3 separate regions of the Homo sapiens genome follow, and all the other regions are linked to region 3. The links come from fine-mapping of genetic effects on gene expression. A gene starts in region 3. Each other region holds a variant in brackets. All regions are shown on one strand. Distances are between the middles of the regions. Region 1 has its middle 17 kb from the start of TEF. Region 2 overlaps TEF (TEF transcription factor, PAR bZIP family member). Region 3 holds the start of POLR3H (RNA polymerase III subunit H).

The links.
Region 1: its variant is fine-mapped to the expression of POLR3H in whole blood (INTERVAL, PIP 0.92).
Region 2: its variant is fine-mapped to the expression of POLR3H in whole blood (TOPMed, PIP above 0.99).

What each region holds. Positions count from the first base shown.
Region 1 is chr22:41,360,553-41,368,729 of GRCh38, forward strand. It overlaps a transcript of TEF not described here. Among named protein-coding and RNA genes, the nearest start is that of TEF, 17 kb to the right of the region's middle. RefSeq lists enhancers at 1-489, 3,453-4,013 and a silencer at 6,832-6,891. The variant TTGTGTG/T (reference allele first, on the strand shown) is at 4,827.
Region 2 is chr22:41,386,819-41,394,995 of GRCh38, forward strand. TEF (TEF transcription factor, PAR bZIP family member) reads left to right here. Exons shown (of 4, transcript NM_003216.4): 2 at 533-850; 3 at 7,278-7,498. Among named protein-coding and RNA genes, the nearest start is that of TEF, 9.0 kb to the left of the region's middle. The variant CG/C (reference allele first, on the strand shown) is at 3,954.
Region 3 is chr22:41,540,767-41,548,943 of GRCh38, forward strand. POLR3H (RNA polymerase III subunit H) reads right to left here and starts at 3,704. Exons shown (of 6, transcript NM_001018050.4): 1 at 3,225-3,704; 2 at 1-29. The coding sequence starts at 3,335. RefSeq lists enhancers at 3,065-3,902, 3,225-3,324, 3,335-3,424 and silencers at 3,475-3,604, 3,795-3,894.

The DNA of each region.
Region 1 (8,177 bases), 180 kb before region 3:
TGCCCAGTGTGATCCCGACTGCAACCCTGGCTTCTGTGAACCCAAGGGAGACTGAAGTCACATGGGTCCAGTTTCCTCATCTTTAAAAGGAGCTGGCGGGGGGGCTGGGCACAGTGGCTCACACCTGTAATCCCAGCACTTTGGGAGGCCGAGGTGGGCGGATCAGCTGAAGTCAGGAGTTTGAGACCAGCCTGGCCAACATGGTGAAAACCCGTCTCTACTAAAAATACAAAAATTAACTGGGCATGGTGGCACATGCCTGTAATCCCAGCTACTTGGGAGGTTGAGGCAGGAGAATCGCTTGAACTCGGGAGGCGGAGGTTGCAGTGAGCTGAGATCGGTCCACTGCACTCCAGCCTGAGTGACAGAGCGAGACTCTGTCTCAAAAATAAATAAATAAAAGGAGCTGATATATTAGATCTGGAGTTCTCAGGGACTCAGTCTGCTGGGGTGGGAGGTACTTTGTCAAATCTTTTGGATTGTGCATGGCTGCAGGTGATAGAGGGGGTCCCATAGGGAGGGACTGCTCATGTCCAAGAGCAAGCTCTCACCAGACAGCTTTTTTTTCTTTTTCTCCTTTTTTTTTTTGAGACAGAGTCTCACTCTGTCACCCAGGCTGGAGTGCAGTGGCACGATCTCGGTTCACTGAAACCTTCACCTCCCAGGCTAAACTGATTCTCCTGCGTCAGCCTCTTCAGTAGCTGGGACTACAGGCACCCACCACCATGCCTGGCTAATTTTTGTATTTTTGGTAGAGCCAGGGTTTCACCATGTTGGCCAGGCTGGTCTCGAACTCCTGACCTCAAGTGATCCACCCGCCGCCTTGGCCTCCCAAAGTGCTGGGATTACAGGCATGAGCCACCACCATGCCCGGCTTCCCAGACAGCTTTAAACTGCAGTGTGGAGTGGACCAGGACAGCGGTTCAGGACCAGAGAATTGCCTGAAGACGGAGTCATTTGGGCCAGGTGTGCAGTAGACGCTCAGATGCTTGATAAATGATGGCACGAGGAACAAAAGCAGCCAGCTTTATTGAGCATCTTGGTTGCAGCAGGTACTGTGCAGCTAGTACATCCGTCCCTCACAGCAACCGTGGAAGTTCACTGTCCACATTTATAGCCCAGAGAGTTTCAGTGAAGGTTCCAAGGACCCTCAGGAAGGAGGCAGAAAAAAGATCGAGAACCACTGGGAACTGGGTATCGGCAAACGTCCCTTCCGCCCTGACATTCTGGAATTCACAGCACCTCTGGATGCACTGTGAAAAACCGAAGTGGCGTGGCAAGGCAGAGTTCCCGGAAGAAAAATACAGACTCATGCTTAGGCTGGAGAGATCGCGTGCCTGCATCAAGACCTTACAGGATTACTCCTGTAATCCTGCCTTGGGAGATCAAGGCAGGAGGATCACTTGAGGCCAGGAGCTTGAGACTAGCCTGAGCAACAGTAAAGCCGTATCTCTACAAAAAAAAAAAAAAAAAGTAAAATTAGCTGGGTATGGTGGTCCACACCTGTGGTCCTAGCTACTTGGGAGGCTGAGGTGGAAGGTTGGCTTGAGCCCAGGAGGTTGAGGCTGCAGTGAGTCATGATCACACCACCGCACTCCAGCCTGGGAGACAGAGCAAGATCCTGTCTCAAAAAAATAAAAATAAATAATAAAGGAACAATTAAAGAGTAAGACAAGCAGAGGCCGGGCTCAGTGGCTCACTCCTGTAATCCCAGCACTTTGGGAGGCAGAGGAGGGTGGATCACGAGGTCAGGAGTTCGAGACCAGCTTGGCCAACATAGTGAAACCCCCGTCTCTACTAAAAATACAAAAATTAGCCGGGTGTGGTGGCACACGCCTGTAGTCCCAGCTACTTGGGAGGCTGAGGTGCAAGAACCACTTGAACCCGGGAGGCAGAGGTTGCAGTGAGCTGAGACCATGCCATTGCACTCCAGCCTGGGTGACAGAGTGAGATTCTGTCTCAAAAAAAAAAAAAAAAATACAAGCAGGACTTCAATCAACCTAGTGGAATAAACTTGTACATTCTCATCAATTCCCTTAAATTCTCTTCTGGTCCTCACGTGGCTCAGATTGGTAAACATCAACTGAGCACCCACTCTATCCCAGATCCAGGGATACAGGATTACTTAAGAAACTGCTTCCCCTTCAGTTCAGTCAGTGCTAAAGGAGACCGACGTAATAGAAGATTGTAGAATGATGTGATGGGGGTGACGGGGGGAGACACTCAGGGAACCAGGGGAGGTACCTCATCCAGGCTCAGCAGCCAGGGAGGACTTCCTGGAGGAGGTGAAACTGGAATTGAAGCTTCAAAAAGATTCATCATTGTAATCCATGTCACTTACTGTTCTGCATCTTTCTCTCTTAATTTTTATTTCACATGTGCAGTTCCATGTACCCGTGTCACCTGGATATTTATGGTCAGTAGCTGATATTCATCCTATTGATGAGTCAGAGCTCGCTTAAGCAGCTTCCAGTTACTGAACGCAGCCCTGTGTCTGGTCTTCAGCCCTGTGAGTAGGGGCCTCAGTGAGCACGACCAACACAGCGCACCAGCTGCCTCAGCTCTACACCTCTAGAGAAAGCCCTTGACAGTTCTGCAAATAATTGCATCCGTCTATCCCCACACCTGGGAGCCCTTTGCAACCTCCCTGGGAAACAACCCCCAGTCCTCAGAAAAACGCAGCTGGAGCCACTGGACCTGCTCAATTGATGATCAGTAAGATTATGCCAGCCTCTTCTGGCACCTTCGTTTCGGGCCTAGAAGTAAATATATATGCGCTGCTGCTCAAGGAGAGGACGAGGCACAGGGAACGTGTTTTGTTGTTTTGTTTTGTTTTTTGTTTTTTTTTTTTTGAGACGGAGTCTTGCTCTTGTGCCCAGGCTAGAGTGCAGTGGCGTGATCTCAGCTCGCTGCAAGCTCTGCCTCCCGGGTTCACGCCATTCTCCTGCCTCAGCCTCCCAAATAGCTGGGATTACAGGTGCATGCCACCATACTAAGCTAATTTTTGTGTTTTTGGTAGAGACAGGGTTTCACCATGTTGGCCAGGCTGGTCAAGAATTCCTGACCTCAGGTGACCCACCCACCTTGGCCTCCCAAAGTGCTGGGATTACAGGAGTGAGCCACCGTGCCTGGCTGAGAACGTATTCTTGATAAAGTTCTCCCTCAGCCCGGCCTCTCAGCTGCACAAGGCGTTAGATGTTCTTAGGGAGCCACTGTGACTCTGACTCCAGACTTCTGTCTGGGATTACAGCTCCCCTGCAAGGAGACATAGCTGTAGGCACAAAGAACACCATGTTCCGGCTGGGCACGGTGGCTCACGCCTGTAATCCCAGCACTCCGGGAGGCCGAGGCGGGTGGATCATGAGGTCAGGAGATTGAGACCATCCTGGTTAACATAGTGAAGACCCCGTCTCTACTAAAAATACAAAAAATTAGCCGGGCCTGGTGGCGGGCACCTGTAGTCCCAGCTACTCGGGAGGCTGAGGCAGGAGAATGGCGTGAACCTGGGAGGCGGAGCTTGCAGTGAGCCAAGATCACGCCACTGCACTCCATCCAGCCTGGGTGACAAAGCGAGACTCCATCTCAAAAAAAAAAAAAAAAAAAAAAAAACCATGTTCCTAGTGAACTGGGGGTAAATACAGTTGATGAAAACTCAAGCGCAGGGCATAGGAATGGGCTCAGTGGCATTGATAAGGACACCAACAGACCTCAGACCATCTGCAGTGGACATCAGATCCCTGAGCTACGAAGTCCAAGAAGTGCAGACAATTCCAGCACTCCCAGCATACGGCCCCCGTCCGAAGGTCTCTAGGTATGTATACGGCCTTCCCTTCCCACTACCTCTGGCCTCCCTGGCTGCCTGGCCCAGCAACCCACTGGTGTGGTCCCTGTCTGACCTAGGGGATGCTGCCAGCTGGACACTGAGTGCCGACTGGGGGCTGCCAACATGGACTCCTGGTGGTGTGAAAGTTCTCTAAGGATAGGGAGTTGCCTGGCTGGGTATGTTAACTTTGAATTCCTCACAGGGTTTAGGCTGGTGCCAGGTATGTGATAAGCACTCATTCATAGTCTCAGAGGCTTAGGACATTCGCACATTAAAATGAACCTGCAGAGGCCAGGCACGGTGGCTCACACCTGTAATCCCAGTACTTTCGGAGGCTGAGGCAGGTGGATCACCTGAAGTCAGGAGTTTGAGACCAGCCTGACCAACACGGAGAAACCCCGTCCCTATTAAAAATACAAAATTAGCTGGGCACAGTGGTGCATGCCTGTAATCCCAGCTACTCGGGAGGCTGAGGCAGGAGAATTGCTTGAACCTGGGAGGCAGAGGTTGCGGTGAACCGAGATCACGCCATTGTGCTCTAGCCTGGGCAACAAGAGCAAAACTCCGCCTCAAAAAAAAAAAAAAAAAAAAAAAAAAGGAGCCTGCAGAGAGCTCACCGGAATGAATTTCCAAGAGAAAAACGTCTTGCAGCAGGTGGGTATGTTTGAGAAACACAGGGTGCTTCCTGTTCCTTTTGAGATCATACCGATGGACACCTGCCCACTCCACCTTTGTGATAAGCGGTCTTGCACTCAAGAGAATTCTTGGACCGAGGAATGGTGAATGCGGCAGCCCAGCCTGAGTCCACCCCTGACTGCAAATCACAGGTCAGCTGGGGGCCTGCGCACCAGGCTCACTCTCACCCTTACCCTCACCCCCGGGGTTGCAGAGCAAAGGGCACTGGCCAGGGTTCTGGCTGGAAACAGCAGTAAGGGGGTCTCTCCTTTGTAGTTACAAAACACTCTCTGCTGGTCAAAACATACAACTCTGCAAAATTAAATGT[TTGTGTG/T]TGTGTGTGTGTGTCATAAATATATACATATATATGTTTACTTTTGCAAAAAGAAACATTGGGGAATGGGAAAGAGGGACAGGGATAGAAAGGACATTTCTAAAGTATACTTCCTTGAGGCTGGGCACAGTGCCTCACACCTGTAATCCCAGCACTTTGGGAGGGTGAGGAGGGCGGATCACCTGAGGTCAGGAGTTTGAGACCAGCCTGGCCAATGATGCGAAACCCTGCCTCTACTAATAATACAAAAATCAGCTGGGCGTAATGGTGTGTGCCTGTAATTCCAGCTACTTAGGAGGCTGAGGCAGGAGCCTGGTAGGCAGAGGTTGCAGTGAGCTGAGATCCTGCTACTGTACTGCAGCCCGGGCAACAGAATGAAACTATGTCTCTAAATAAACAAATAAATAAACAAACCTTATCGGAGGTTTTGAGCTGTGAGCCACGTATTGTTTTTTGTATTCAAAAGTTAAAATTAATTTTTAATTAATTTGGGAAAGAGCATAATTTGGGGAGGGTCATTAGGGAGGGAAGGAGGGTAATTAAGAGTATAAGCTGAGGTCATTGGGAAAGGAAGAAGCCAGAAGGGGCTCTTGGAGTATTTTTGATTCTGTACAAAATGGAATTTTGGAAAACAACAAAGCACTGCTTAGAAACCAGCTACAGGCCAGGGGCAGTGTTCACACCCATAATCCCAAGACTTTGGGGAGGCCAAGACCGGGGGATGGCTTGAACACAGGACTTGAGACCAGCTTGGGCAACAGTGTCTTTATAAAAAAAAAGTCCAGTGTGGCGGCATGCACCTATGGTCCCAGCTACTTGTAAGGATGAGGCAGTGAGCCGTGATCCCACCACTGCACTTCAGCCTGAGCAACAAAGACCCTGTTTCAAAAAAAAAAAAAAAAATCAGCTACCACGCAGAAAACCAAATGTTTATTGCAGCCCATCTGGAGCTTCAGAGCCATAGAACTAGAGCTGAACGGCACCTTAGAGGTCACTGCATTCGGTGGTTCGGGAACTGAGACCCAGAGTTGCTGCCACGCTTGCTCAAGATCCCACAGCAATGTACGGCAGAATCGAGAACCTGGCATCCCCCGGCAAGTCTGGCTTTGACGTGATGTTGGTCTGACGTAGAGGTTGACATCCAGAACCTTTGCTTCACCCATTCAAGTAACCCAAGGACCACAGGGGCCAGCGTCCTGGTGGGAGGGTATGAGAGGGAACTACAGCAAATAGCCAATTGGCACTTTAAGTCCCCACAATGACTGGGAAGCAGGGATTCCTCATCCAGGACAAGCCTGAAGCAGGCTGGCAGAGCTGCCCCCCTTTCAGTGGTGCCTGGTCTCCTGGCACCTGCCCCTTTTCCCCTCTCCCCTGAAGACCAAAGAACCTGAGGCGGTAGGTTTTATCACTTCCTTTTGGGGAACAGGCTTCAGGCTGTGCAGATGGTATAAAGCTCCAATTATGCATGCCATATGTACACTGGCGTGCCTTGTAGGGTACGTGTGCATGGCATAAACACAGCATCAAAACATGCCACAAGCCCTTGAGGCTCAGAAGCGCACAGGTGAAGGCATGATGTCCGACCGCATCCCTGCATCTGCCAACACAGGGTGTCTTGTGCTCGGCTGCCTGAGGTGCTGTCCTTGCCTGTCATCCTCCTTTTCTCTTGGAGCCTCAGGTCCCAGCCCGGGATGGTTTCCACTGCGTGCCTGGGCCTCCAGGGCACCTCCATGCTGATGCGTGCTTGCTGTGGGCGTGGAGCTTACCATTCTCACCTGGCAGCCCCAGTTATGGCTCCCAGCCTGGGGGAGAACTTCCCTTTCCAAAGTTAGATAACAGGCTGGGCTCTCTGTCAGAGGATTGGCGCGACAGCTCCACGTGCTGCAGCTGGCGCAGGGCCAGGCCCGCCCTGCCAAGCAGCGGGAAGGGAAGGCCTGGCTGCAGCCGGAGCTGGCAGGTGGCCGAGCCGGGGGTGGACGGGCGGGCTGGGACTGGTGCTGGCCATTGGCTGCCTCAAGGCTCCCACCCCGCCTGCCTCCCTAGCCTGCGGCTGGCGGCCCCTGCCTCTCCAGCTGCCTCTGAACTCCCTGGAGCAAGCACCTCCTGCTGGGCTGTGTGAGCTGCGACTGGTTCTCAGTGGCCCCTGCCATGGACATGCCTGAGGTCCTCAAGTCCCTGCTGGAGCACTCTCTGCCTTGGCCAGAGAAGAGAACAGGTAGGAGCACAGGTGACCTGCATTGATTGGCTGCCCAGGTACTCGAGGGGGCGAGGGGGCAGCCACAGGCACAGTGGCAGGACAGGCATCTCCAAGCCAGGGAGGGTCTCAGCAGTGGTGCGCCCTTGGTCTCAGGGTGCAGAGTGCGGAGAGGGGTTCGAGGAGGCATGTGTCACACCGGCTCTGGGACTCTCTCCTAGGCCTGCTGGATTTGGGGAAGCCATGGCCAGTGTGTGGCCACTGACAGGTGCTGTGCTCATGTGGGACCAGGACAGGACAGGGGGTCCTATTGAAAGAATCTGGCTGGATGCTGACTGCTTTTGAAGCTCCCTCCCCCTGTACGCTGGGGGTGGCAGAGGAGCGGCAGGGACTGTGGATTTGGGCAGCAGGAGCCTGGGTCTGAAGCAGAGGCTTTCCTTGGTGCGCCTGCTGCAGCTCCCGCTTGCCGGAGGGCTGAACTCATGGATGGGATGGAAACTGTTATGTAACAGGACCACAAGGCTCGAAGCCCTGCGTTCCTAGGATACCACAGGCAAAACGCGCGAGGGAGGAGAGAGGAGGGCGTGGACTGAGGGGCAGACCTGGTGGCCAGCACCAGGTGTCTCCCAAGTCCTGCCTGGGAACCCCATGGCCAGATTAGTTTGGCGGAGAATACTGATAAATCTCTCTCCAAATCTCTTCTGTTCCCAGAAGTCAGAGGTCACCCCCAGGTCCCCAGGGCTCCAACTCCTCCTTGCCTTTAGAGGGGCCCAGCTGGCTTTTGCTGCCTGAGTCTGACTTGAGCACCTGGGGTGTCCTCTCAGGGGACCTTTCTCAGGCCTCCCTCTCATCCTGCTGTGCCAGCACCTGCTACCTAGCATCACCAGGTGGCCCTGGTTGTCCCCGCAGGACTCCTTCCTTCCACAGGACGCTCTCAGCCCACTCCCAAACCAGAGCCAGGAGACAGATCCCACAGCCCCCGGCCTCCCTTCACCCCTCTGGAACTGGGTGTGGGTTTGCTTGGGCTAAGCCAGGAAAGGAGGGTCAGCAGGTTCTAGCCCCAGGGAGACATTGCCCGAACGGGGAAGGACGTACTGGGAGCTTAGGGCAGGGGCTCCGGAGCTCTCGCACGCAGCTCTGGGCTCAGGCCC
Region 2 (8,177 bases), 150 kb before region 3:
GGATCACCTGAGCTCAGGAGTTCGAGACCAGCCTGGCCAACATAGTAAAACCCCATCTCTACTAAAAATACAAAAAATAGCTGGGCATGGTGGTGCGTACCTGTAATCCCAGCTACTCGGGAGTCTGAGGCACAAGAATCGCTTGAACCCAGGAGGTGGAGGTTGCAGCGAGCCGAAATTGGGTCACTGCACTCCAGCCTGGGCGACGAGCAAAATACTGTCTCAAAATAATAAAAACTAAAATAAAATTAAATAATGAATTAACCCTATGACCGCTTAAGGTCTCAGAGTATGTGGTAAGCCTTCTGGGAAGGCCAGGCATGGATGAGGATGGGATGCCGTGTCTAAAGGAAAACAGCCGGCCTGGTTCAAGTGCGAGATTCGAACTGGAGAATAGAGTAGGTTCTTGAAATGCATGGGTTGGAATCGGGGCTCTGAGAAAGATGGGCCAGGCCTGTGAGGCTCACTGCCCACTTCCTGGGATTGAGTTACTCTCCTGTGTGGTATTTCATCGCAGATTTTGTTTCTGCAGATAAGGAAAAGGGGAAGGAAAAGCTGGAGGAGGACGAGGCCGCAGCCGCCAGCACCATGGCTGTCTCAGCCTCCCTCATGCCACCCATCTGGGACAAGACCATCCCATATGATGGCGAATCTTTCCACCTGGAGTACATGGACCTGGATGAGTTCCTGCTGGAGAATGGCATCCCCGCCAGCCCCACCCACCTGGCCCACAACCTGCTGCTGCCTGTAGCAGAGCTAGAAGGGAAGGAGTCTGCCAGCTCTTCCACAGCATCCCCACCATCCTCCTCCACTGCCATCTTTCAGCCCTCTGAAACCGTGTCCAGCACAGGTTGGTGAAAGGCCATCGAGGAGGGCCACCTGTCCCATCCAGGGAAGTCCATTTCCCACTGAGGGCTGCTTGTGTCCATGTACCCAGTGAGTCCCTTCTCTGAGGGGAGGTCCTGGTGGGGCTGCAGTGTGGAGAAACTCTTCACTCCCCACCCTTCCACACAGTTCCCCGAGGCTGGAGATAAAAATAGTGGTCATGTCACTGGCAGTTGGAACCCTTCTGTTGGTTGCTGTGCTGCAAACAGTCAGGACAGGACCTTCCAGGCCACGGCATTACAGGATAGAAATCCCATTCTGCATTTCCTCAATGCTGCTCTTTTTTTTTTTTTTTTTTTTTTTTTTTTTTTTGAGAAGGAGTCTCGCTCTGTTGCCCAGGCTGGAGTGCAGTGGAGCAATCTCGGCTCACTGCCACCTCCACCTCCTGGGTTCAATCAATTCTCTGCCTCAGCCTCCTGAGTAGCTGGGATTACAGGCACCAGCCACCACGCCTGGCTAATTTTTTTATTTTTTAGTAGAGACAGAGTTTCATCATGTTGGCCAGGCTGGTCTCGAACTCCTAACCTCTGGTGATCTGCCCGCCTCAGCCTCCCAAAGTGCTGGGATTACAGGCGTAAGCTACCACGCACAGCCTTAATTTTTGTATTTTTAGTAGAGACGGGGTTTTGCCATATTTGTCAGGCTGGTCTTGGCTCACTGCAACCTCCATCTCCCGGATTGAAGCGATTTTTATTTTTAGTAGAGATGGGGTTTTGCCATATTTGTCAGGCTGGTCTTGAACTCCTGACCTCAGGTGATCGACCTACGTTGGCCTCCCAAAGTGGGGAATGCTTTCTTTGTGCCAGGGCATAAGCACTATTCAAGTGCTACCTCCATTACCTACTAGCCTGGGCAACAGAGTGAGACGCCATCTCAAAAAAAAAAAAAAAAGAAAGCATTCCCACCACCTGGCCAGGACAAACATCATCTTCAGAGTCTGTCCTTATTCCTCCTCCTTTTACATTTTATCTCTGGGGGTTTGTTTTCATGCTCCTTGGACACGAACCTACCAAAGGAGACATGGCTCCTGTTGCAGGGGTTCTGCAAAGCTTTCTGCAGTCTCTGAGGCATACAGGCTGATAGCTCCTGCCAGTCGGTATGTCACCCCAGGAATCCACACCCAATAAGTTCTCATACTCTATTTTTTTTTCTTTTTATTGTGGAAATTTTTTCAAACAAAATACAAAAGTAAGAGACGACTATAATGAACCTCTATGTAACCGTCACCCAGCTTCAACAATTCTCAACTCAGAAGCAGTTATTTTCAATCAAATTATAAGTATTTCAATATGTATCTAAAATATAAGGGTTCTTTTAAAAAAAACATAACGAAAATACTAGTTTTACATCTAAAGTTGACAATAAATCCATCAACATTCAGATTTCCAAAGTTGTCTCATAAATGGTATTTTACAGGCCGGGCGCAGTGGCTCACGTCTGTAATCCCAGCACTTTGGGAGGCCGAGGTGGGTGGATCACGAGGTCAGGAGATTGAGACCATCCTGGTTAACACGGTGAAACCCCATCTCTACTAAAAAGTACAAAAAATTAGCCGGGTGTGGTGGCGGGTGCCTATAGTGCCAACTACTCGGGAGGCTGAGGCAGGAGAATGGCGTGAACCCAGGAGGCAGAGCTTGCAGTGAACCGAGATTGCACCACTGCACTCCAGCCTGGGCGACAGAGCAAGACTCCATCTCAAAGAAAAAAAAAGATCGAGACCATCCTGGCCAACATGGTGAAACCTCGACTCTACTAAAAATACAAAAATTAGCTGGGCATGGTGGTGCGTGTCTGTAATCCCAGCTACTTGGAGGCTGAGGCAGGAAAATCGCTTGAACCCGGGAGGCGGAGGTTGCAGTGAGCCGAGATGGCGCCACTGCACTCCAGCCTGGTGACAGAGCAAGACTCCATCTCAAAATAAATAAATAAAAGTTTTTTTTTTTTTTCTGTAGAGTCAGGGTATCACTGTGTTGCCCTGGCTGGTTTCAAATTCATGGCCTCAAACAGTCCTCCCACCTGGGCCTCCCGAAGTGTTGGTTGAAATTACAGGCATGAGCCACTACACCCAGCCGCTTTGTTAAGTTTCATTGCTGAATAGTAGTCAATTGTACTAACGTACCACAGCTTATCCATTTAACCGTTGAAGGACATTCTGATTTTGGTTATGAATAATGCTGCCATGAACATTCATGTGCATGTCTTTTTTTTTTTTTGAGACGGAGTCTTGCTTTTGTCGCCCAGGCTGGAGTGCAGTGGCGGGGTCTCAGCTCACTGCAACCTCCGCCTCCTGGGTTTAAGCGATTCTCCTGCCTCAGCCTCCCAGGTAGCTGGTATTACAGGTGTGCGCCACCACTCCTGGCTTATTTTTGTAGAGATGGGGTTTTGCCATGTTGGCCAGGTTGGTCTCAAACTCCTGACCTCAGGTGATCCACCTGCCTCACCTTCCAAAGTTCTGGGATTACAAGTGTGAGCCACTGTGCCTGGCCCATCTACATGTTTTTTGGTAAATATATATATGCGTTTCTTTTGGGCATTTGCTTAGGAAGAGAATGGCTAGGTCATTGGACATGCATATGTTCAGTTTGTGTAGACCCTGCCAAATAGCGTACAAAGTTGTTATATCCATTTGTACTCACACCAGCAGGGCATTGGAGTTCCATTGTCAGCCTTTGATTTTGACATCTTTTGTAATGGTGGACCTATGAGAGAATTATATTTCAGGCAAGTTACCAACAGATCTATTCCCTTTCCCTCTTCTTCCAGCAAAGTCATTTTAAGGTCTCATTGTCATCTTTTTTTTTTTTTTTTTTTTTTTTTGAGATGGAGTCTCACTCTGTCACCCAGACTGGAGTGCAGTGGTGCGATCTCGGCTCCCGCAACCTCCGCCTCGCAGGTTCAAGTTCTCCTGCCTCAGCCTCCTGAGTAGCTGGGAATACAGGCGCCCACCACCACACCTGGCTAATTTTTGTATTTTCAGTAGAGACAGGGTTTCACCGTGTTGGCCAGGCTGGTCTTGAACTCCTCACCTCAGGTGATCCACCTGCCTCGGAAAGTGCTGGGATTACAGG[CG/C]TGAGCCACTGCGCTCAGCCCTCATTGTCATTTTCTAGAATTTGTTCATAGAGGTATCCATGGGGAAATGAGAATTCCTCAAAATCTTGTCCCCAGGCCTCTTTGCAAATTTTCCCCTTTTGTTTCCTGCGGCTTTCTCTTATCCTGTCCCTGAAACTTAACCACATCTTGCCACTTGGTTGTTGCTGAAGGGCACCCAGGCATGGCGTCACTTTGAACAACATTCTCATGTGGTAGGTACCTGAGCTGCTTGTCTTGCAGGTACTAGGTTTGGCATGCCCGAAACTGCCTACAGTTACCATGTGGGTCCCTGGTCATTCACTCCTCTGACACTCAGATGTCTCTGTAATTAACCCCTGTCTAATAGGATACAATGAATTTATGTGCATAATCCAATTAAAGCCTAAGTCTGATCATGCCACACCTCTGCCCAGAGCCCTCCAGGTGTTCTATCTCAGGATAAAAGTCAGAATCAGCAGCACCATTGACATTTAGACCAGATGATTTTTTGTTGGGGTTGGAGGCGTGACTGACCTATGCATTGCAGGATCTTCTTTTCTTTTTTTTTTTTTTAAGACAGTCTTATTCTGTCACCCAGGCTGGAGTGCAGTGGTGTGATCTCAGCTCGCTGCGACCTCTGCCTCCCGGGTTCAAGCGAGTCTCCTGCCTCAGCCCCCTGAGTAGCTGGGATAACAGGCACGGCCGGCTACTTTTTGTATTTTTAGTAGAGACGGGGTTTCATCGTATTGGTCAGGCTGGTCTCGAACTCCTGACCTCAGGTGATCCACCCACCTCAGCCTCTCAAAGTGCCGGGATTACAGGCATGAGCCACCACACCAGGCCGGCATCTGACTTTTTTTTTTTTTTTTGAGAGGGAGTCTCACTCTGTCGCCAGGCTGGAGTGCAGTGGCACCATCTTGGCTCACTGCAATCTCTGCCTACTGGGTTTAAGCAATTCTCCTGCCTCAGTCTCCTGAGTAGCTGGGACTACAGGCGCATGCCATCACGCCCAGCTAATTTTCGTATTTTTAGTAGAGACGGGGTTTCACCATGTTGGCCAGGATGGTCTCGATCTCTTGACCTCGTGATCCACACGCCTCGGCCTCCCAGAGTGCTGAGATTACAGGTGTGCACCACCACGCCTGGCCCATCTGACATTTTTATATATCGTTTGTATTTATCTTGTGTAATGCAGCTTTCCCCACTAGAATAACATTTCATGCAGGCAGGGATTTTTAGCTGTTTGTTAACTGTTTTGTCTTTGCCAGGACAGAACCTGGCATATAACAGGTATTCAATAAGTATCTGTTGACTGAATAATTATTTTGTATACTCCTATCAGTAGCATTGAATGAGCTGGCCAAAGGTATAGTTTTTCTTAATATAACTCTTATCTCTAATAACACACAACCTTAGAATTCTAGAGGTGGTTTTAACCCAATCGGTGTCCACTATTAAATGGCAGCCAGGTGGGGCAGGGAAGAACAAGGAATCAGCCAGCCAGACTAAGTTTCAAATTTTAGTTCAATTGCTTATCATCTGTGTGACTCTGGGAAAACCATTTTATTTCTCTGAGCGTTAGTTTCTTCATCTGTAAACTAGTTGTCATAAGACTAAATGGGGCCGGGCGCAGTGGCTCACACCTGTAATCCCAGCACTTTGGGAGGCCGAGGCAGGTGGATCACCAAGTCAGGAGATTGAGACCATCCTGGCCAACATAGTGAAACCCCGTCTCTACTAAAAATACAAAAATTAGCCGAGCATGGTAGTGGGCGCCAGTAGTCCCAGCTACTTGGGAGGCTGAGGCAGGAGAATAGCTTGAACCCAGGAGGTCAAGGTTGCAGTGAGCTGAGATCACGCCACTACACTCCACCCTGGGAAACAGAGTGAGACTCTTCAAAAAAAAAAAAAAAAAAAAAAAAGACTAAGTGACTAGATGGCACAGTAACAGACATGTCTCAGGGACTCAAAAGTGGAACCCGGGCTGGACGTGGTGGCTCACACCTGTAATCCCAGCATTTTGGGAGGCCGAGGCGGGTGGATCACTTGAGCTCAGCAGTTCAAGACCAGCCTGGCCAACATGGTGAAACCCTGTCTCTACTAAAAATACAAAAACTAGCCAGGCGTGGTGGCTTATGCCTGTTGTCTCCACTACTCGGGAGGCTGAGTCGGGAATCGGTTGAACCCGGGAAGTGGAGGCTGCAGTGAGCCAAGATTGCACCAGTGCACTCTACCCTGAGTGACAGAGCAAGACTCAGTCTCAAAAGAAAAAGAAAAGTGGAGCCTGGCCAGGTGCAGTGGCTCACACCTGTAATCCCAGCACTTTCAGAGGCTGAAGCAGGAAGATCACTTGAGCCTAGGAGTTTGAGACCAGCCCTGGCAACATAATGAAACCCTGTCTCTAAAAAATAAAAAAAAATTAGCCAGGCGTGTTGGTGTGCATCCGCGGTCCCAGCTACTCAGGAGGCTGAGGCAAGAGGATCACTCCAGCCCAGAAGGTCGAGGGTGCAGTGAGCCATGATCATACCACTATACTCCAGCCTAGGTGACAGAGCAAGACCCTGTCTCAAAAAAAAAAAAAAAAAATTGGAACCCATTTCCATTCTTCAGTCTGTGTCTGCCTGGAGAGACACAGCTGTTTCTCATTACTGGAGATCTTGAAATCACAGGAAGTTAAGGGAATATAAAAATTTAATGTTTTAGGCTGGGCGCAGTGGCTCATGCCTGTAATCCCAGCACTTTGGGAGGCCAAGGCAGGCGGATCACAAGGTCAGGAGATCAAGACCATCCTGGCTAACACAGTAAAACCTCATCTCTACTAAAAATACAAAAAAATTAGCCAGGCTTGGTGGCGGGCACCTGCGGTGGCAGGCGCCTGTAGTCCCAGCTACTCAGGAGGCTGAGGCAGGAGAGTGGCATGAACCCGGGAGGCGGAGCTTGCAATGAGCCGAGATTGCGCCACTGCACTCCAGCCTGGGCGACAGAGCAAGACTCCCATCTCAAAAAAAAAAAAAAAAAAAAATTAATGTTTTGCTTAACATTTCTGGAGGGGGTGGAAACAATTGGAAAACCCTGTCTTTTTCTAGGGCTTCTGTTTCCTTTTGAGCATTCTGTTCCTGAAGGAAAGAATTCTTTGAATGTTTGTGTTGTGGAATTGAACCGTGTGCCAGTCTGGCTTAGGGGCTGGTACTGTTGGGGTTTTCTTCTCCCCAGGCGGCAGTGGCTTATGCAGCCTTGAGGTTCAACCAGGTGTCTGGGTGTGTGGCGTGGGTCTTCTCTGTCCAGTGGGCTGCTTCGGGACCACCTGTCTCTGTGTCTTTTAGAATCTTCCCTGGAGAAGGAGAGGGAGACTCCCAGTCCCATCGACCCCAATTGTGTGGAAGTGGATGTGAACTTCAATCCGGACCCCGCCGACCTGGTGCTCTCCAGTGTGCCAGGCGGGGAGCTCTTCAACCCTCGGAAGCACAAGTTTGCTGAGGAGGACCTGAAGCCCCAGCCTATGATCAAAAAGGCCAAGAAGGTCTTTGTCCCCGACGAGCAGAAGGTAACCTGGTATTCCTTATAAATAAAGATGCAGCGTTGGTTCAAGGGCCTAGGGGATATGGCTCCTCGCATTTGATTTTATCTGGAGAGCCTTCCCTCCTTGTGACACCATTTGGAAAGACATGAGTTTAGTGCTTAAAGCCATATCCTTCAGCAGTTTGGTAGAAAGAAAGGGAGTCATGTGGCATTTGGCCCCAGTGTGACTCCCTGTAGTTTCTCTCCTTCCCCGGGCCATCGGCTGTGTTGATGTTCCTGCCTCCCTGGCTGTAGCCCAGCCACTGGGCAAGAGCTCACTAGGCCACAGGAACTGGGGTTGAAAAAGTCCTTGCTTTGAAGGACAAAGGGTTTCTTGTATGTTGCCATCCCCAGGGATGAGCAAGCAGCTTTCAAGCTGGTGGTGCTGTTAGGAACTGGTGGGAAGAGAGAATTTTGCAGTTTTCCATCCTTTCCTATGAAAAACTTACAGCAAGGATTTTTCATCCAAATCTTTGGAGTCAGGCACACCTGGGTCCAAACTCCATGTTGCCACTTGTGGCCTAGCTGTGCCTCAAGTTCCTCATCTGTAAAACGGGAGCAACTGAACCTCCCTCCCGGGGAGGTTTGTGAGACTTTAATAATGATGTGATGATCATGGTGAATATTTAGATGGTACTCACTGTAGGCCAGGCACTGATTTTTGT
Region 3 (8,177 bases):
CAAATGCAGAGTCCCACGTTGTACACGACCTGCATGCATACAAACACAGACACACAAGTACACATGGATACAGAGTGACCACAGGCCCAGCTCCCAGGCAATCTGAGCCCCTCACAACCACAAGCAAGCCATGATTATCTCCTTTTTTAGGTGAAAATGAGTTTGTGGAGGGGACCAGGGTAAGGAACCTCAGAAGGATGCAGAGCTCTGGAAGGAGCAGGGCCTCGGGTGACAAAACAGGTCCAGGTTCCAAGGCCAGCTCCACCACCCACTGTGTGACTGCCAAGAGGGTCACTTCACCTCTCTGAGCCTCGGTCTCCCCATCTGCAAATGTGAAATACCAGGCTGCAGAGTTATAAAATAAAGAGAGATAACAGATGTGAAGCCCCTAGCCTTGTACCTGGCTCGTGTATTGGAAACCATCATCATCAAGGATCTTTGTTATTACTAGTGAGGACCAGTGACAGGAATGCTGCCTAAACGTGCACTCTCCGACATCCCAAAGCCAATGCCAGAGCTCACAGTTTAGTGAGCGTCACAGCCACAGCTAAACCCCACTGTGCTCACAACATCTCAGACACACAGACGCAGCCACAGGGACTGCAGCTGGCAGAGGGACACAAGACCTAGGCCCCAAGAATGTGCAGAAATCCCATGCCCTCACCCCACACCACTGTGGTTCAAACGACTGGCTACTCAGTGTCTCCTTATCTGCCACCGTGTCATCACCCCCACTTAGAACCCTTGCAAGAACTGTCCAAGAATTAGCAAGAAGCTCAGAGAACTCAGAGTCGTGGCCAGACCTCACCAAGATAATGCCACAAGATCTGTGCCCTTTGTCAGACCATGGATTTCTGTGTGGGCCCCCTCTCAAACGATTCATCTAATCAAATACTAGAAGACTTGTCCCAACAGGACCTCTACCCCAAAGGGACTATATTCCCTTCTTGGACTTTCCACACCTTCTCTCTCAAGGTCCACACCTCCATCCCCCAACAGACCCTCATCTTCAACCTCACAAAGTAACCAGAAGCCATCCACTTAAAGACTCCATGAGTTCCCTTCACTATCTAGCAACCCCCAAATCAACCTCACCTCTTCTGAAGGGACCTGTCTCATGCGTAAAGCCAGCTAAGCATCCTCTTTCTGGCTCCTTCTCAGCCCATCACCTTCTGATGCTCCACGGATAAAGACCAATACCTCAACTCCGACATCCTACAGGGCTGTGTGGCCTGGCCCCCACCCACCTGTCCAGCCCACCCTCCCCTCTGCCCAAGCCACACCAGCCTCTTCCACACCATGGTGGGTATTTTACCCCTTCTTCTTTTTTTTTTGAAGCGAAGTTTCACTCTTGTCACCCAGGCTGGAAGGCAGTGGTGCGATTTCAGCTCACTGCAACCTCTGCCTCCTGGGTTCAAGTGATTCTTCTCCCTCTGCCTCCCAAGTAGCCGGGATTACAGGTGCCTGCCACCATGCCCAGCTATTTTTTGTATTTTTAGTAGACATGGGGCTTCACCATGTTGGACAGGCTGGTCTCAAACTCCTGACCTTGGGTGATCCACCCGCCTCAGCCTCCCAAAGTGGTGGGATTACAGGTGTGAGCCCCCACGCCCGGCCTGTATTCCTTCTTCACAGGGCCTTTGCACATGCCAGTTCCTGCCTTCAGGGCTCTTCTCTCCACCCAGCCCCCTCCCACCCTAGAAAGGAATCCTCTGGTTGGCTCCACTTCACCATCAGATCTCACCTTCAACCCCACCTCCTCAACAAAGCTGCAGGTCCCCTCATTCCAGGGGACGTTCCTTTGTTCCACAGGTGTGTGAACACCTGTCCCTCATAACATTTACCTCAATTTGTCACCAAACACTCAACTGTGGACCCTTCTCATTCATATCTGCTTTCCCACCACACTATAGCACAGAGCCTTGTCTCTGTTTCATTCATTCAGTCAACAAATGGCCGGGCACGGTGGCTCACACCTGTAATTCCAGCACTTTGGGAGGCTGAGGCAGGCAGATCACCTGAGGTCAGAAGTTTGAGACCAGCCTGGCCAACATGGTGAAACCCCGTCTCTACTAAAAGTACAAAAATTAGCCAGGTGTGGTGGCAGGTGCCTGTAATCCCAGCTACTCAGGAGGCTGAAGCAGAAGAATAGCTTGAACCTGGGAGGTGGAGGTTGCAGTGAGCCAAGATCGCTTCATTGCACCCCAGCCTGGGCGACAAGAGCGGCACTCTTGTCTCACACACACAAACACAAAACAGAAAATTATGGGACATCTACTCCCGCCAGGCTTTGGCTAAATGAGGGGATACTTCAGGGAAGAAGGCAGATAAGGTCCCTGCTCTCAAGGAGAGGGAAAGGAAAAAGTCTAAGAAGGAAAGAGAGTGATGTGACACAGAATACCTGGAAAGGGAGGACTGTCAAAGAAACGGCAGTGGGAAGACCTCTCAGCTGGTACTAAGGCACACAGGCACAGCACAGAGAAGGCGCACAAATATTGGCTGCTGGAATGAAGGGATGAACCTCCTGACAGTTAATTCTGTACTACTAGAACTCTCCATCTTCACGAAAACAATGCATTGACCCGAGGCGATGGCGCACACCTGTAATCCCAGCACTTTGGGAGGCCGAGGCGGGGGGATCAAGAGATCGAGACCATCCTGGCCAAAATGGTGAAACCCCGTCTCTACGAAAAATACAAAAATTAGCTGGGGGTGGTGGCGCGCGCCTGTAGTTGTCCCAGCTACTCGGGAGGCTGGGGCAGGAGAATCGCTTGAACCCGGGAGGCGGAGGTTGCAGTGAGCCGAGATCGCGCCACTGCACTCCAGCCTGGACGAAAGAGCAAGACTCCGTCTCAAAAACAAAAAACAAAACAAAACAAAACAAACAACAACAACAACAAAAACAATGCATGGCTGGAAGGACAGCAATATTTTATCCCCATTTTAAAAATGGAAACTGAGGCCCAGAAGGGGTCAGTAACTTGCCTGCAATTGCAAAGTAATTTAGAATTGTGGAATCTAACACTTCCAGTTACAACTCCCTTTTTCAAGCCCATTTTCTTTTGATCCCCTTCAATATCTCCTTTCACGGTGAAGAAAAGTTCTGAGACATTAAGCTGCTTGCCCACGGCCAGGGCTTGGCATGACCGAGGCCGGGCCTGCGGCCAGTGGGCGGCGCTCGCTCTCCCACGCCAAGGCCTGCCCGCGAGCCGTGGGCCCAGTACCTTGTTGGCCAACTTCTTGTTCAGCTCCTCGGCAATGGAGTCGTTGAGCTTCCTCTCAAACTGCCAAGGGGGGATCCGGACGGTGTCCACCATTTCCACCAGGACGAACATCCCGGCCTGCGCTGGGGGCTCTGGGAACAGGAGGGTCAGTCACGCACCAGGGCCGGGGGCAGGGAGAATCCCCGAGCCCCTTGGTCCCGTCCCAGTCGCTGAGGCCCCCAGGCTGGCGGTGAGGTTGCACGGGGCGGTCTCGGGGGCCCGGTCCGGGCCATGCTCCGCTACTACAACATGAGGAAACTGAGGCCAGAGGGAGGCACTCTCCGTCCACAGCTCCGGGTGCGCGCCCGCGCCGCGAGACCCCGCCACGCCACGCCACTCCACGCCACGCCACTCCACGCCCCGCACCCGCGCCACGTGCCGCCGCTCGTATCACGCACCACGCACCACGCACCGCGCACAGCCGCTCGCGCTTGCGCGACTGCGGGCGAGATTCCGAATCCATCGCTTCCGGAAAACTCACCAATAAGAAACCTCTGTCCACCCCCACCCCGCCGAGGCGGGGCGGGGCTGCCTGTGTGCTCGCGCACAGCGTGGGGCAGAGAGAGGGCGAGGAGAGGGCGGGGCCTCCTCCTTTCACAGGAGCAGAGCGGTTCCCCCGCCCCCGACAGCGCTTTCTGTTGCTAGGCGACCTCCGTGCAATCCCGCCTGATTATCCCTCGCCTGGCCTGTGCTTTACCCGCATTGCTGTCCTCTGCTCGGCAGCCAGAGTGATCCTTTGGAAACGCAAACATATATTACCACATCTAAGTTAAAAAAAAAACCCACCGCAAACATAACATGCTTAGCACCCTTAAGTGTTCCGGAGACAAGGAGAATTAGCAGGAAAGGGGCACTTGGGACTGTTCTGAGATGATGGAAATGTTCTGTATTTTGTTTTCGGTGGTATAACATTGACGTATATAATTGTCCAAACTAATTGAACTCGGCAAGATTTTTGCATTTATTTGTAGACATTATGTTCCAATTGAAAAGTTATAATAAATTGGAACAAAAAACACAACCCATTGAACTTAGAATACTAGATCCAAGCCGGGCGTGGTGGTGTACACCCGTAGTCCCACCTACTCAGAAGCCTGAGACAGCAGCATCGCTTGAGTCCAGGAGTTTGAGGTTGCAGTTTGAGGTTGCATGCTGCACTCTAGCATGGGTGACAGTGACACCTCATGTCTAAACGAAAAAGAAGAAGAAGGAGAGGCGGAAGAAGAAGAAAGAAGAAGGAGAAGAAGAAGAAGAAAGAAGAAAGAAAAGGGAAAGAAGAAAGAAAAGAAGAAAGAAAGAAGAAAAGTCCAAAACCTTTATGGTAGTTCACACGGCCCTGCAAGATCTGACCATACCCCCCTCCTATAGCCCCATCATGCTCTGTCTCGCTGACATTCCAGTCTCATTCATCTTCACGTGATAGCATGGGCTAAGAGAATTTGGTAGCTTACCCAAGATCACGTGTTGACAAGTGGTAGAGGTGGGCCCAGTCTGAACCTCACTACCCTGCCTCTAAAAATTGGTGGGGTGTAGATGTATACTGTAGTGGGTTTTTTTGTTTGTTTGTTTGTTTGAGACGGAGGATCGCTCTGTCGCCCAGGCTGGAGTGCAGTGGCGCGATCTTGGCTCACTGCAAGCTCCGCCTCTCGGGTTCACGCCATTCTCCTGCCTTAGCCTCCCGAGTAGCTGAGACTACAGGCGCCCACCATCACGCCTGGCTAATTTTTCGTATTTTTTTTTAGTAGAGACGAGGTTTCACCGTGTTAGCCAGGATGGTCTCGATCTCCTGACCTCATGATCTGCCCACCTCAGCCTTCCAAAGTGCTGGGATTACAGGTGTGAGCCACCGCGCCCGGGCTTGTAGTGTGTTTTAACCAAAATAACAATTTAGGTACTTACAAAAGATACTTGGGGTAAATGACAGAGGCACTTGGAAATGTATGGTGCCTTAATTTGCTGATTTCACAAGCATAGTGATCTCTCAGTGACACTGGCTGCAGTGATGCTAAATGTGGCCTTCCCTGCATCTATGATTTTATTTTTAGGTGTGCTTCTATAGGATTTGAGGTACTTGAGGACAGCAGCAAATGCTACTTCAGCTCTTTATTCCCACAATCCCCTAACACATTCCTAGGAAGCATTGAGTAAAGGTGTTTAGGGATTACCATTAATTCTTCCTCTCAAATGTTTCCTCTTCATTCCACTCCCACTGCTATTGCTTCGGTTCAGGCCTTTTCTTTTTTTTTTCTTTTGAGACGGAATCTTGCTCTGTCGCCCAGACTGGAGTGCAGTGGCATGATCTCAGCTCAATGCAACCTCCACCTCCTGGGTTCAAGCGATTCTCCTGCCTCAGCTTCCCAAATAGCTGGAATTACAGGTGCCCACCACCACACTTAGCTAACTTTTGTATTTTTAGATAAGATTTCACCATGTTGGCCAGGCTGGTTTCGAACTCCTGACCTCAGGTGATCCCCCCCATCTTGGCCTCTCAAAGTGCTGAGATTACAGGCATGAGCCACCGTGACTAGCCAATATCTGGTCATTTAAAAGTATGTGGCGGGGCCAGGCGTGGTGGTTCACACCTGTAATCCCATCACTTTGGGAGGCCGAGGTGGGTGGATCACAAGGTCAGGAGATTGAGACTATCCTGGCTAACACGGTGAAACTCTGTCTCTACTAAAAATACAAAAAAAAAAAAAAAAAAAAAAAAGTAGCCGGGCGTGGTGGCACGCGCCTGTGGTCCCAGCTACTTGGGAGGCTGAGGCAGAAGAATCACTTGAACCCGGGAGGCAGAGGTTGCAGTGAGCTGAGATCACACCACTGCACTCCAGCCTGGCGACAAAGTGAGACTCCGTCTCAAAAAAAAAAAGTGTGTGGTGGCCAGGCGTGTGGCTCATGCCTGTAATCCCAGCACTTTGGGAGGCCAAGGTGGGCGGATCACCTGAGGTCAGGAGTTCAAGACCAGCCTGACCAACATGGAGAAACCCCGTCTCTACTAAATACAAAATTAGCCGGGCGTGGTGGCGCATGCCTGTAATCCCAGCTACTCAGGAAGGCTGAGGCAGAAGAATCGCTTGAACCCAGGAGGTGGCGGTTCTGGTGAGCAGAGATCGCGCTATTGTACTCCAGCTTCGGCAACAAGAGCAAAACTCCATCTTGAAAAAAAAAGTGTGTAGCACCTCCCTCCTCCCACTCTCTCTCTTGCTCCTCTTTTCCCCATGTGATGTGCCTGCTCCTCCTTTGATTTCCGATATCATGGGAAGCTTCCCGAGGCATCCCTGGAAGCTGAGCCTATGCCAGTACCATGCTTGCTGTAAAGCCTGTGGAACCATGAGCCAACTAAACCTATTTTTTTTTTTTTGAGACGGATTCTTGCTCTGTCGCCCAGGCTGGAGTGCAGTGGCATGATCTCGGCTCACTGCAAGCTCCACCTCCCGGGTTCATGCCATTCTCCTGCCTCAGCCTCCCAAGTAGCTAGGACTACAGGCACCCGCTACCACGCCCAGCTAGTTTTTTGTATTTTTAGTAGAGATGAGGTTTCACCGTGTTAGTCAGGATGGCCTCGATCTCCTCACCTCATGATCCACCCGCCTTGGGCTCCCAAAGTGCTGGGATTACAGGCGTGAGCCACCGTGCCCAGCCAGCCTATTTTCTTTATAAATTAACCAGCTCTGTTGCCCAGGCTGGAGTGCAGTGGCGCTATCAGGGCTCACTGCAACCTCCACCTCCCCATTTCAAGCGATTCTTCTGCCTCAGCCTCCAGACTAGCTGGGATTACAGGCGTGCACCACCACACCTGGATAATTTTGGTACTTTCAGTAGAGACAAGGTTTTGCCATGTTGGCCAGGCTGGTCTGAAACTCTTGACCTCAAGTGATCCTCAGCTTCGGCCTCCCAAAGTGCTGGGATTACAGGCATGAGCCACCACTACCAGCCAGGTATTTCTTTTTTCTTTCTTTTTTTTTTTGTGCGTGTCACCCAGGTTGGAGTGCAGAGGTGCCATCTCAGCTCACCGCAACCTCCGCCTCCTGAGTTCAAGCGATTCTCCTGCCTCAGCCTCCTGAGTGGCTGAGAGTATAGGCACATGCCACCACGACTGGCTAATTTTTGTAGTTTTAGTAGACACGGGGTTTCACCATGTTGACCAGGCTTGTCTCAAACTCATGACCTCAGGTGATCTGCCTGCCTCGGCCTCCCAAAGTGCTGGGATTACAGGCGTGAGCCACCACGCCAGGCCCAGGTATTTCTTTATAGCAACGTGAGAACAGCCCAAAACAGAACCCACATGTGATGCTGTTCTCATTCATTCGTGCATTCATTCAACATACTGTTGTGTACAGTTGTTGGAGATGCAATGCAGAAGAAAAACTGGGCCTCAAACCGAGCTTCAACTCAGAGCACTTGGTGCTGGAGTTGGGGGGCAGCAGGGTGGGCACTGAGAGAAAGAGCGAGTTTGTACTCTCAGGTAATTAAAAGTATTTGGAGCCAGGCACAGTGGCTCATGCCTATAATCCCAACATTTTGGGAGGCCGAGGCAGGAGGATTGCTTAAGGTCAGTTTGAGACCAGCCTGGGTAACAAAGTGAGATACTGTCTCTACTAAAAAAATAAAATAATTAGCTGGGTGTGATGGCACTTGCCTGTAGTCCTAGCTACTTGGGAGGCTTAGTTGGGAGGATTGCTTGAGCCCAGGAATTTGAGGCTTCAGTGAGCTTTGATCATGCCACTGCCCTCCAGCCTGGGTGACAGAGCAAGACTCTGTCTCTGAAATAAATAATAATATTCGGGCTGATTTACATGGGAGATGACAACTGGTAAGCTAAGAGGTTAGAGACCTAAGCAGCATCCAGATCAGAGGGCCTTATGATTATATTAACAGCTAACATTCATGAGCACTTACTATATGTCAAGTACT